Linked DNA regions of Homo sapiens. The protein of the gene in region 3 purifies or fractionates together with the protein of the main gene of each other region. This does not show direct contact. Each region holds a gene or a part of one and is shown on either strand. Other genes may lie near its edges.

What was found.
Region 1: the proteins of MTCL2 (region 3) and NPHP4 purify together in Homo sapiens (co-immunoprecipitation; one large-scale study listed by IntAct). This does not show direct contact.
Region 2: the proteins of MTCL2 (region 3) and CCDC77 purify together in Homo sapiens (affinity purification with mass spectrometry; one large-scale study listed by BioGRID and IntAct). This does not show direct contact.

What each region holds. Positions count from the first base shown.
Region 1 is NC_000001.11:5,863,426-5,866,925, reverse strand, and holds part of NPHP4 (nephrocystin-4), read left to right. Parts: intron 1-467; coding exon 468-553; intron 554-1,652; coding exon 1,653-1,824; exon of another isoform or gene 1,825-2,402; intron 2,403-2,408; coding exon 2,409-2,588; intron 2,589-2,892; coding exon 2,893-3,036; intron 3,037-3,500. UniProt on the Homo sapiens protein: Involved in the organization of apical junctions; the function is proposed to implicate a NPHP1-4-8 module. Does not seem to be strictly required for ciliogenesis. Required for building functional cilia.
Region 2 is NC_000012.12:435,944-439,666, forward strand, and holds part of CCDC77 (coiled-coil domain-containing protein 77), read left to right. Parts: intron 1-2,391; coding exon 2,392-2,611; intron 2,612-3,723.
Region 3 is NC_000020.11:36,853,469-36,857,191, reverse strand, and holds part of MTCL2 (microtubule cross-linking factor 2), read left to right. Parts: intron 1-3,723. UniProt on the Homo sapiens protein: Microtubule-associated factor that enables integration of the centrosomal and Golgi-associated microtubules on the Golgi membrane, supporting directional migration. Preferentially acts on the perinuclear microtubules accumulated around the Golgi.

The DNA.
Region 1 (3,500 bases), on a different chromosome or scaffold from region 3:
CTGCTAAGTGGTTTCTTTCCCAAGGTACTAAAGGGCTATTTTGACATCCTTATGAGAGCTTTATGAGTGTGTTTTTATTTTTTCTACTAGCAGATCAGCTCCTTGATCATCTGAATTTAAATTTTAAAAAGGCACGAAGCAAAGTTAATAAAGTGGATGGTAATTAAGGCACTTATTAATTACCATTATGTAAAGGATAAGGCAATAATTGTGTTATGACCAGTTAGGAAACCGGATAAAATCTCCTGTAGAATCTAATTGTTGAGATCCATGTAAAATCAGGAAGCTAATGATCTTCTCTTTGGCAGTGAACAGAATAGTGAATTCCGATTGGTATAGAACATGAACAGATGCGTTCTGGGAGGGACTGGCCGTCACTCGCTGCGTGTATTAGTCACAGATTTAGGGGCCAGGCTGGGGTCGGCAGAGCACTGTGTGCCCTGATGTGCTGCACATCTGGTTGGCAGGGCCCCGGGGAACCACGGGACATATTTCTGAAGGTGGCCAGTGGTCCAAGCCCGGAGATCAAAGACTTCTTTGTCATCATTTACTCGTAAGTGCACAGGCTTTGGGGACCTGGAGGCGGTGGCGGAGGAGAGGAGGAGGCAGGCCTGGGGCTGCTGGTGGATTGAAAGTGGGCTTGGCCCCTTCCTAAAATTGGGGGAGCTTTCGGGCCTTCGCTTTGTGAGGCGGGATTCTGCTGCGAGTTCAGGGCCCGCAGGGGTCTAGGGAAGGCACCTTGGAGGGGCACGTGCAGCCTGAGGGACTTGGGATGCAGCTCCTGCCACCAAGGAGAGACACCAGTCAGCCTCTGTCCCCAGATAGTGGCAAGGGCCACCCAGAAGCCCCTCATTACCTTTTTCTTGCTGAGTCCCTAGGCTGAACAGCATGAATGAAGCTGTGGTCCCTCCTGCGGAGAGGCAGGACTGTGGTGGAAATGCCCATCCCTCTCTCCTCCAGGCTAAATGACCCGGCCCCTTTCCCCTCCCCTCCTAAGTCGGATCCCCAAGCCCTGTGAGAATCCTTTCAAACTGGTGTGAGCTCGGAGATTTCCTGCAGTGCTTCTGAGGATGGGGCAGGGGCTAACCTGCACTCAGTGCCCACCACAGAGGGGCCACGTGACCACGTCTCAGAGTGGCTTCCTCGTGAGCCCATGAAGATGCCTCACCCAGCCCCATTTGACTGTGAAGCAGCAGGCTCTTGGCCCTAAAATGCTAACAGGGGCTTCCGTGCTCAGGCCGGCATGACCTCCAGCCCCACCCTGTCTCCTGCGTGGCGCTGCCCTTGGCTTAGCCTCAGAACCCCTATTGGGGGTGGACACTTGTCCAGGATGTGTGTTTGGCCAAAGCGTGCCTTGTCATTTGTTTGACATGTGGTTCCTAAGCAGCCCTGCTGCGCCCTGAGAGCCTCTGCTGTGGGTGGGAGATGGGCAGCCAGGGGTGGAGCCACCAGGCCCTAGCTCTGCCTCCTGGGGCCTGGTCCTCCGGGGCTTTCCCTGCGTGGCCCCAGCTCTGCCTCCTGTGGCCTGGTCCTCTGGGGCTTTCCCTGCACAGCCTCCTGTCTGCCCACGCTCCTGGCAGCCCTTGTTGGCCTCTCGTGGGCCGGTGCTGAGTCCTCCGGGACAAGTGCAGATGGCTCCCATCCCACTGCAGGGATCGCTGGCTGGCGACACCCACACAGACGTGGCAGGTCTACCTCCACTCCCTGCAGCGCGTGGATGTCTCCTGCGTCGCAGGCCAGCTGACCCGCCTGTCCCTTGTCCTTCGGGGGACACAGACAGTGAGGAAAGTGAGAGCTTTCACCTCTCATCCCCAGGAGCTGAAGGTACGGCCTCTCTGGGGGCTGTTCTGAGCCTCTCCCCAACCCCAGCCTGGAGACGGGCAGTGGGCATTCAGCTGGAGCACAGTGGGTGGCCCTGACAGCAGCTTTTCCAGCGCCTCCAGCGCGCAGACGCTGTTACCAGAGGCCTCTCGGCAGTTGCCTTTCGTTAGATGTGCCATTGTGGGGTGAGTGACGTACACACCAACCCCAAAGGCCGGTGTTCAGAATTCCTGGCAAGGTGAACAGTGACAGGAGCTCTGGTGTTAGTGAAGCCACAGTTAGACGGGGTGGGAGGGCGGCCCCTGGTGCCACCAGCTGGCCGGGGTTTTAAGCCCAAGATGGCTTCAGTTCTGTCTGCGGAGGCAGCGCTTAGGGAATAGTCGCCGTGTGAGAGGAGGGACTTGCCTGGTGTGGACCCAAGTCGCGGCCACAGTCATGTCAGGGTTGGTTGTGGCCTCAGATTTGGCCGCCCCGGAACCACCCATGACCTTGGGCTCCCCTGGCTGATTGGGCTGCAGGCGCCCAGGAGCCCCTTGCTTGCACATCCTGAGAGGCTGTGCTCTGACCCGCCTCTCTCGCTCTTGAAGACAGACCCCAAAGGTGTCTTCGTGCTGCCGCCTCGTGGGGTGCAGGACCTGCATGTTGGCGTGAGGCCCCTTAGGGCCGGCAGCCGCTTTGTCCATCTCAACCTGGTGGACGTGGATTGCCACCAGCTGGTGGCCTCCTGGCTCGTGTGCCTCTGCTGCCGCCAGCCGCTCATCTCCAAGGTCTGTATGTGTGGCAGGCACAGGCTGAGGGGATGGGGGCTCAATACCAGGGCACTGCAGGACCCCCACCTCGGCCCTGTGACTCGGACCACTGGATACAGTGTTCTGACCCAGCAGGGCCGGGTGCATGAGTGTTTGCTCCTGTGCTGTGTCTCTCCCGGATGGAAGCTCCAGAGAGCGTCTGTCTTATCTCTGTGGGGGTCCCCGTGCACGGTGCACAGGAGACTCAGGGAATACTTGGAGGAAGGGCCAGTGGCTGTTCCCGTGAGTGGCCGCAGCGTCTCCCTGTCCCCTCCCTCCACAGGCCTTTGAGATCATGTTGGCTGCGGGCGAAGGGAAGGGTGTCAACAAGAGGATCACCTACACCAACCCCTACCCCTCCCGGAGGACATTCCACCTGCACAGCGACCACCCGGAGCTGCTGCGGTTCAGAGAGGACTCCTTCCAGGTGTGGTGGGGCTGTGCCTGGGACTCCTAGGGGAAGACCCGGGGACCTGAATGGAGGGCAGTTAGCCTGCATTTAGGAGCGAGTTCCTCAAATCACCAGCAGTCTTCCAAAAGCCCCAGGGCGGTGACAGGTACCATCCCATAGTTGGGTGGGCCCGTTGTATCTTTAGTAGCTGGAGATTTAGCAAAGTTTCTCCTGAGTGTGGGAAAGGGTGTTGTGCCCAGGGCTTTTCATGGTAATGTTAGACAGCTCAGTCTCGGAAATAAGTGTGCCTTCGAGTCCAAGTAACGCGTCACACTGGCTGAGCACTGGTTCCCATCCTTGTACCGGGCGCTGAAGTCAAAGGCAGGCCTTGGATGCACCCGCAGGGCTCCCCTGCCTTGTCAGCTCCCCTTGGAAATAAACACGACCATGCAGAGAGGTTGCTGGTGAGAGCGTGGGACAGCCCGGGGGTGGATGCTGGG
Region 2 (3,723 bases), on a different chromosome or scaffold from region 3:
TGCCCAGGCTAGTCTCAAACTCCTGGTTTCAAGCAATCCTCTCACCTCAGCCTCCTGAAGCACTGAGATTACAGACATGAGCCACTGTGCCCAGCCTTGCACTCTCATTCTTAGTACATTAATTCAAACTCTATTCCTTTGTTTAAATTGTTCCTATTGCTGATCCTTTGTCTTTTTTTTTTTTTTTTTTTTGAGACAGAGTCTCGCTGTGTCGTCCAGGCTGGAGTGCAGTGGCACAATCTCGGCTCACTGCAAGCTCCGCCTCCCGGGTTCATGCCATTCTCCTGCCTCAGCCTCCTGAGTAGCTGGGACTACAGGCGCCCACCACCACGCCCGGCTAATTTTTTTTTTTTAATTGTATTTTTAGTAGAGACAAGGTTTCACCGTGTTAGCCAGGATGGTCTCGATCTGACCTCGTGATCTGCCCGCCTCGGCCTCCCAAAGTGCTGGGATTTCCTTCTTAGTAGAGACAGGGTTTCACCATGTTGGCCAAGCTGGTCTCGATCCTGACCTCAGGTAACCTGCCCACCTCAGCCTCCCAAAGTGTTGGGATTACAGGCGGGAGCCATCGCGCCCGGTCTGCTATGTTTCTTTTAACATAGTATAATGTGTTTGCATTTGGCCAGTATTTCTCCACCTTCATTTTTATTTTTAGTATTTTTGCACTTAAGTATAGCATCTTGACATTTCAATGGGTTTTGTTTTTAAGGAACAGATATTTTAATATTGTCATAGTAATTTGTAATTTTATATCTGTTTTCCAGAATACCAGTAACCTTCCTTGTTTAGCGTTATCTGCATATCTGAGCACATGATCGGTTCCTTCCATTAGATGGATCTTCCTAAGAAGGGCATGAAATCCAGGGCCGTTAATGACTGCCCTTTGGGTATCACTTTCAAGCTACTTGTATTTTAACAAGCCTATAGTTTCCCAGTTTGAGATTGAGAAGATAATGTAAGACAGAATAAAATAACTCATTGAAAGTGAGAGAGACCCTTGTGGTAATTGAATCAATCTCTCTCTACATACACATGCACACATACCTGACTGTATATATTCACCTTGTGACATTTACTCTACTGTGTGCTTGGCACTCTGCTGTCATTTCCTCTTATCTGTGCACTCTGTTACTCATGAAAATAAGTGGATCTCACATTATTTGTTTGGTAGAAAAATACAGTGATTGCTTCATGGTATTTAATACTCTTGCAAGCAGCCAGATCATTCAGTATAGCATTTTTCTGGGTGGTAATGTTAAACTGATGAGTTGCTAACTTCCAGGGATATTGTTTTTTAAAGATAGAGACGTTGTCTATTCCTAAATTTCAGGAAATAGTCACCATGAATCTGTTAACTGCCTGTGTATGTCCAGTAGTTAGTATTATCCTTGACAATCTCATGGCATTGGGGCAAAAATAATAAATAAGGTATATGCTTTCACTCAGGCTGGGAAAAAGTGCATGTTGACAGTTAAAATATGACAGATGAGCAAGTGTTGAATTATAAGACAAGGGAACATTAACCTGGGATGGAGTTTCAGAGAATGGAGGAATTAAAATAGGCTAAAGTTGTTGGAAATGACTTCATACAGGAAGTTGATTTTTAAAAAAGTAGGCCAGGTGCAGTGGTTCACACTTGTAATCCCAGTATTTTGGGAGGCTGGGGCGAGAGGAGTGTATGAGCCCAGGAGTTCCAGACCAGACAAGCCTAAGGAACATAGCAAGACCCCATCTCCACACACACACAAATTTTTAATGAGCTGGCAAACACCCTGGGAGGTGGTCCCAGCTGCTTAGGAGGCTGAGACAGAAGGATTGCTTGAGCCCAGAAGGTCAGGGCTGCTGTGAGCTGTGATCGTGCCTCTGCACTCCAACCTACGTGACAGAGCAAGACCCTGTCTTAAAAAAAAAAAAAAAAAAAAGTTCTTTTTAAAATAAACAAAGGATAAGATTTTGATATAGGCAGTTCTACATGGAGCACAGCATACACAAAAGCAAAGCTGTTTTTGATACTATAGAATTTGTATTAACTTGTCAGAACACCGTGATTTAGTTCTTCCTTGTCTTATTCCTAGGAATGGTCCATAGTTAACGCAGGCTATGTGTAAATATCCCTGTAGTCCTTCTAATCATATAATCTGAAGTTCGCACTCAGGAAAGTACCTGTAAAGACCAGTCTATGAACCAGTGAGCATGGGTAGATACATTATACTTTACCCAGTAAAACATGTAAGATTGCCAGTGATCAGATTTTTAAACCTGCTAATATTTTACAAAATTTATATATCACACCATTTTAAAAGAACCACTCTCTTCCATTTTGGAATAATCCTTGCTTTCAGGTGTGCTGTGTGCGCATCCTCATGTCTGCATTTATACTTTCTTTCCTAGTCTTCACCACACCCAAGAACTGCTCTATGAGAGCACCAAAGATTTTCTGCAACTCAGATCTGAAAACCAAAATAAAGAGAAGTCATGGATGCTTGAAAAAGATAATTTGATGTCAAAGATTAAGCAATATAGGGTGCAGTGTAAGAAGAAAGAAGATAAAATTGGAAAAGTGTTGCCCGTTATGCATGAGAGTCACCATGCTCAAAGTGAATATATTAAGGTAATGTCCTTATGTCGTAACGAAGTTGTTTATTTTTCTGGGAGAGTTGAAGGAATTCCAAAGAACCTACAATTTGTAATGTAAGATCCATTCAGTCCAGGAAGCTCTGGTAGCAGCTGCCTCAAGAACTAGGTTTCAAAGAGCAGCTGATCGTTGTAGTATTTGGGGATTCAAAATATTAGACTTGTTGATTCATTCATTCATTCATTCAACAAATATTTATTGTACTCCTGGCCGGGCACAGTGGTTCACGCCTGTAATCCCAGCACTTTGGGAGGCCTAGGTGGGCAAATCGTGAGGTCAGGAGTTCAAGACCAGCCTGGCCAACATGGTGAAACCCCGTCTCTACTAAAAATACAAAAAAAAAAAAAAAATTAGCTGAGCATGATGGTGGGTGCCTGTAATCCCAGCTACTTGGGAGGCTGAGGCAGGAGAATTGCTTGAACCCGGGAGGCAGAAGTTGCAGTCAGCCGAGACTGTGCCACTGCACTCCAGCCCCGATGACAGTGCGAGACTGTGTCTCAAAACAAACACAAAAAAACATAAATATTTATTGCACTCGTACTATGGGTTAGGCCCTAGAGTTACAGTAATCTAAACAAGGTCTTCCCTCATGGTGTTTACATTTTAATGGGTGAGAAAAAACAGAAACATTAGCAAATAACTAAGAAAATTATAGATTAGGCCAGACGCGATGGCTCACACCTGTAATCCCAGCACTTTGGGAGGCCAAGGCGGGTGGATCACCTGAGGTCAGGAGTTCGAGACCAGCCTGACCAACATGGTGAAACCCCGTCTCTACTGAAAATATAAAAATTGGTGGGGCGTGGTGGTGGGCACCTGTAATCCCAGTTACTCGGGAGGCTGAGGCAGGAGAATCACCTGAACCCGGGAGGCAGAGGTTGCAGTGAGCTGAGATCATGCGATTGTACTCCAGCCTGGGCGACAGAGTGGGACTCCATCTCAAAAAAAAAAAAGGACTTTGGGAGGCAGAGGTGGGTGGATCACGAGGTCAGGAGTTCGAGAGCAGCCTTGCCAGCACAGCGGAACCCTGTCTCTACCAAAAATATAAAAAAATAGCCAGGCGTGGTGGCGGACACCTGTAATCCCAG
Region 3 (3,723 bases):
CAGAAGTACACATGTAGGCGGAGACACAAACCCACACAGACGTTATACACACACACTAGCATCCACAGAAGTCTGCACATCTACCCTTGCCAGGCTGGCCCAGGCACAAGCTCACCACCCGGGTACCTCCCCTGCCTCTTCTACAAAGAGAGCAGCAGAGACTTGCACACCTACCCGAGGCTTACAGACACCCACCAAGGGGACTCCCACATGCACATCAGCAGGGACACAGCACAGTCTGGCATGCAAACATTAGGCATGTAGCATTTGCCCACAGGAGCCAGAGGCTCTCAAACCAGGGAACCTAGACACACGCACACACGTGCGCGCACGCACACACACACACACACACGCTGTGACATTTCATCCACACACAGAAACAGGAAATCCTGGTCTGTGTCTCCCTGGAGCTAATGTGTACAAACTACTACTGTTTTCAGTGGCTCACTAGACTTACTTCTACAAGGCTGCTGGGAACACTAAGGAGTGTGGCCAGGGCCTTGACTTTGTAACCTTCTGGAGCTGGGGGTCTTGGGGTCCTGGGTGGTGGGTGGATGGGGGTGGTAGGTCTTGAAGTCAGAAGAAGCTACACCGAAGTCCCCCAGGTCCCTGATGCCCAGCTCCTGGGCCCAGGGCCAGTGGGGCTGAGTGAAGTGGACCGATTGTCGAGCTGCCCACAGAAGAAACACTGCCCGGGGGCAACTCCCTTCTAATCTCCTTGGAATTTCCTGCTGGCCCTATCTCCCCCTTCTCCCCCTGTTCCCTTGCTGGGGGCTGCAGAGGGCCATGCCACTCCCATCTATAAAGGGTGCCCCATTCTGGCTGGGGAATGATGGAGGCAAGGGTAGAGGTGGCTAGAGGAGCTATGGGAGCTCAGAGGAGGGACTTGGCAGACTTCCTGGAGGAGGAGGTGTCCTTGGAGCTGGGGAGTTAGCCTCAAGTGGCTGTCTCTGTGCCCAGCTCTTAGAACAGTGCCTGCCATGTTGTAGGGGCTCAATAAATATGTGTACAATTAAGTGAAAGGCAGTAGGCAGGGCCTGGAGGTGGACCACAGGCTTGAAACGGAAAAGCTGGAGGGAGTGGTGGGAGCTGGCAGGGATGGGGAGAGTCTGGGAAGGGGCGTTGGGCTGGCTTGGGAAGGGCATTGAATGCCAAGCCAAGGGAGCACCTTGCTGGGAGTGGTCTTGTTGCAGCAAAGCTGCAGCCACCTCCTTTTATGTGTCTGCAGCCCTGGGCCTGAGGCCTGCCCTGCCGGAGAGGCCTGGGGAGGGAGGAGAGCCAGGCTGTGTGGTCTAGGGGCCAACTCCACCTCTGGAGTCAAGTCTGGAGCCAAACCTCACTGTGTCACCTCCTCCGTGTGCATGCTGTCCCTGTGCAAACCCCTCACCAAGACTCCGTCTTCCTCCTGTAAAATGGGGATGTGATCCTTTCTAGTGGGGCACTTGGGAGGCTGACAGCTCAGATGTTCTGTGCACCTAGCACCATCCTGGCACAGAGGAGGGGAGGAGGCCCCGTGTCTTGCATAGCCTCCGGGGCAGAGAGAGTCCCCTAGGAAAGGGGCGCAGCTAAGTTCAAGCAAGGGCCTGCCCAGCAGCCAAGGTTTTCACTGAGGTCATTCCCCTAGTCCCCACATGCATGACCTCATCCATGGTCACGTTCACTCCCCTTGGTGCCGGAAGGAACTTGGAGCTGGGGTGCTCCATGCCAGGCTGACCCTGGCATCACTGGAGGCCTCAGTCAGCACTGCATCTACCTGCTTTGCGGTAGTGAGGCACAGCAGGGGTCAGAGCAGGTGGAAGCAGCAGGCCAGCCCTTTGTTCTCCGAGGTCCAGGGTGGTTGGGAGAGAGCACTGTGATCTGGAGCCAAGCTGACTGGGCTGGAATCCCAGCTCTGCCTTTTCCTTTCTGAGCTTTCCCTTTCTGAGCCTCGGTCTCGTCATCTGTAGAATGGGGATGTGGATGTCCTTGCCCCGCACGTTGCCGTGAGGGTTCCGTAAGAGAAAGTGTGCAGGTGTGGGTCCCATTAGCCAGGTCTGGCTCCTGGGAAGGACCCGACAGCACTTGGCGCTTGCCTGTTATATCTGGCTCTGGTGTGACCCCCGTGACCCCAGGTTAAGCTGGGTGCTTGATGACAGGGGCTGTGCTTGGCTCTGGGTGTCCCTCTGTGGGTGTTGGCTTGGGGCATCAGTCTGAGTGTTATGCACAGAGCTGCACTGCATTTTGGGCACCCCCAAACGTATATCCCTGTCTGTGTCCCCCCTTCCCTCCCCCACGGCGTCGTGTCACTCTTCCCTGAATGGCCCAGGCTAGTGCCTCCAGCTTAGTAACTGGTGATACACATTTGCTAATGGAAGGACACCTTTGGCGGCCCCTCATTCTCAAATGGAGGTGAATCATCTCTCACTGCCTGAGCCACAAGGAAAAGCTCAGCCTCTATGAAAAAAATTCTGGGGTTCCCTAGCTAGGCTGGATCAGCTGAACATCTTTACTCTGGTTGGGGCCCAGGCCTGCTTTGGGTCTTCTGGGCTCGAGTCAGTTGCACCAGCCTCTCCCCTCCCCGCCTCTCCTTGACCCTACCCCATGGTGGAGCAGCCTGTGTGGTCCTGCCTCCCACAGCCTCACCCACCCCTGCCCCGCCCAAGCTCTGCGGGTGCTGGACACACCCCGGCCTCTGTCCCGTGCTCTTGCTCTTCCCATCCGGCCTTTGTGCTTGCAGTTCCCGGCTCCTTCCCTTGGTTTCTTCCTCCACCTTTGAGCGCTCAGCCCCAGCAGCAGCTCCCCAGGTCAGGCTCCTGTGTCAGACACCTTGGAGCTCCCTGGAGCTTCCTTTGGGGCATTTACCACGATGTTGATTAGATTATTAATGGGGTAATGATAGGTTTCATGCCATCACTGCCCCACCTTTCCCTGCATGAGGGCAGGGACCTTCCAGGGTAATTAGCTCCTTCCTTTTACAAAGGGAGAAACTAAGGCCCAGAGAGGTTAAGGGGCTTGTTAGAGGTCATGCAGCCTGTAAGTGGCAAGAGGCAAGACTGGGGTCTTGTGCTTCTCTCCAGGATGCCAGGCAGGGGGAATGGCAGGGGTGTGAAGTGCTGGGGTGTCCTGGAGCTTCAGGCTTTGTGGCCTTGGGCCACTCTCTTTGGAGCTTTGCCTTCTATCCCTAAAGACCTCAGACCCCTGCTCTGAGTTTTTGAGATTTCGCTGCAACCCAGAGGGTGTTTGGGGGATGTTTTAAACACATCCAGGTCCAGATGCTGCCTTCCTTCCTGTTCACATGGAAAGGATGGGAGGAAACTGTCAGGCGCTTCCTGACACGAATGCCCCAGAGGCCGTAGGGCCTGTGGATATCTCCCTGCTCTGCCAGGTAAGGCCTTGAATGGGAGAGTGACAACAGTGACAAGCCAGATGTGGCCTTGGTGGGCAGTGGTCTCTTACCAACAACAACCACCACACACACACACACACACACACACACACACACACACACACCCCTCCCTGATAGAGCATCTGTAGTGTCTCTTGTGCAGAACTGTACCAGACGGATCTGGGAGGCTCACTCCTGACTGGCTGCGTAGACCTTATCTTCCTGGGCCTCCGTTTGCTTGTCTGTGAAATGGGGATAAAATAATAATAGTGCCTGCCTCTAAGGATCATCACTGAGCAAGAGATAATGGCTTTTCTGTCTCAGTCCGGTGTCTGGAACGCATTAAACGCTTGTCAATG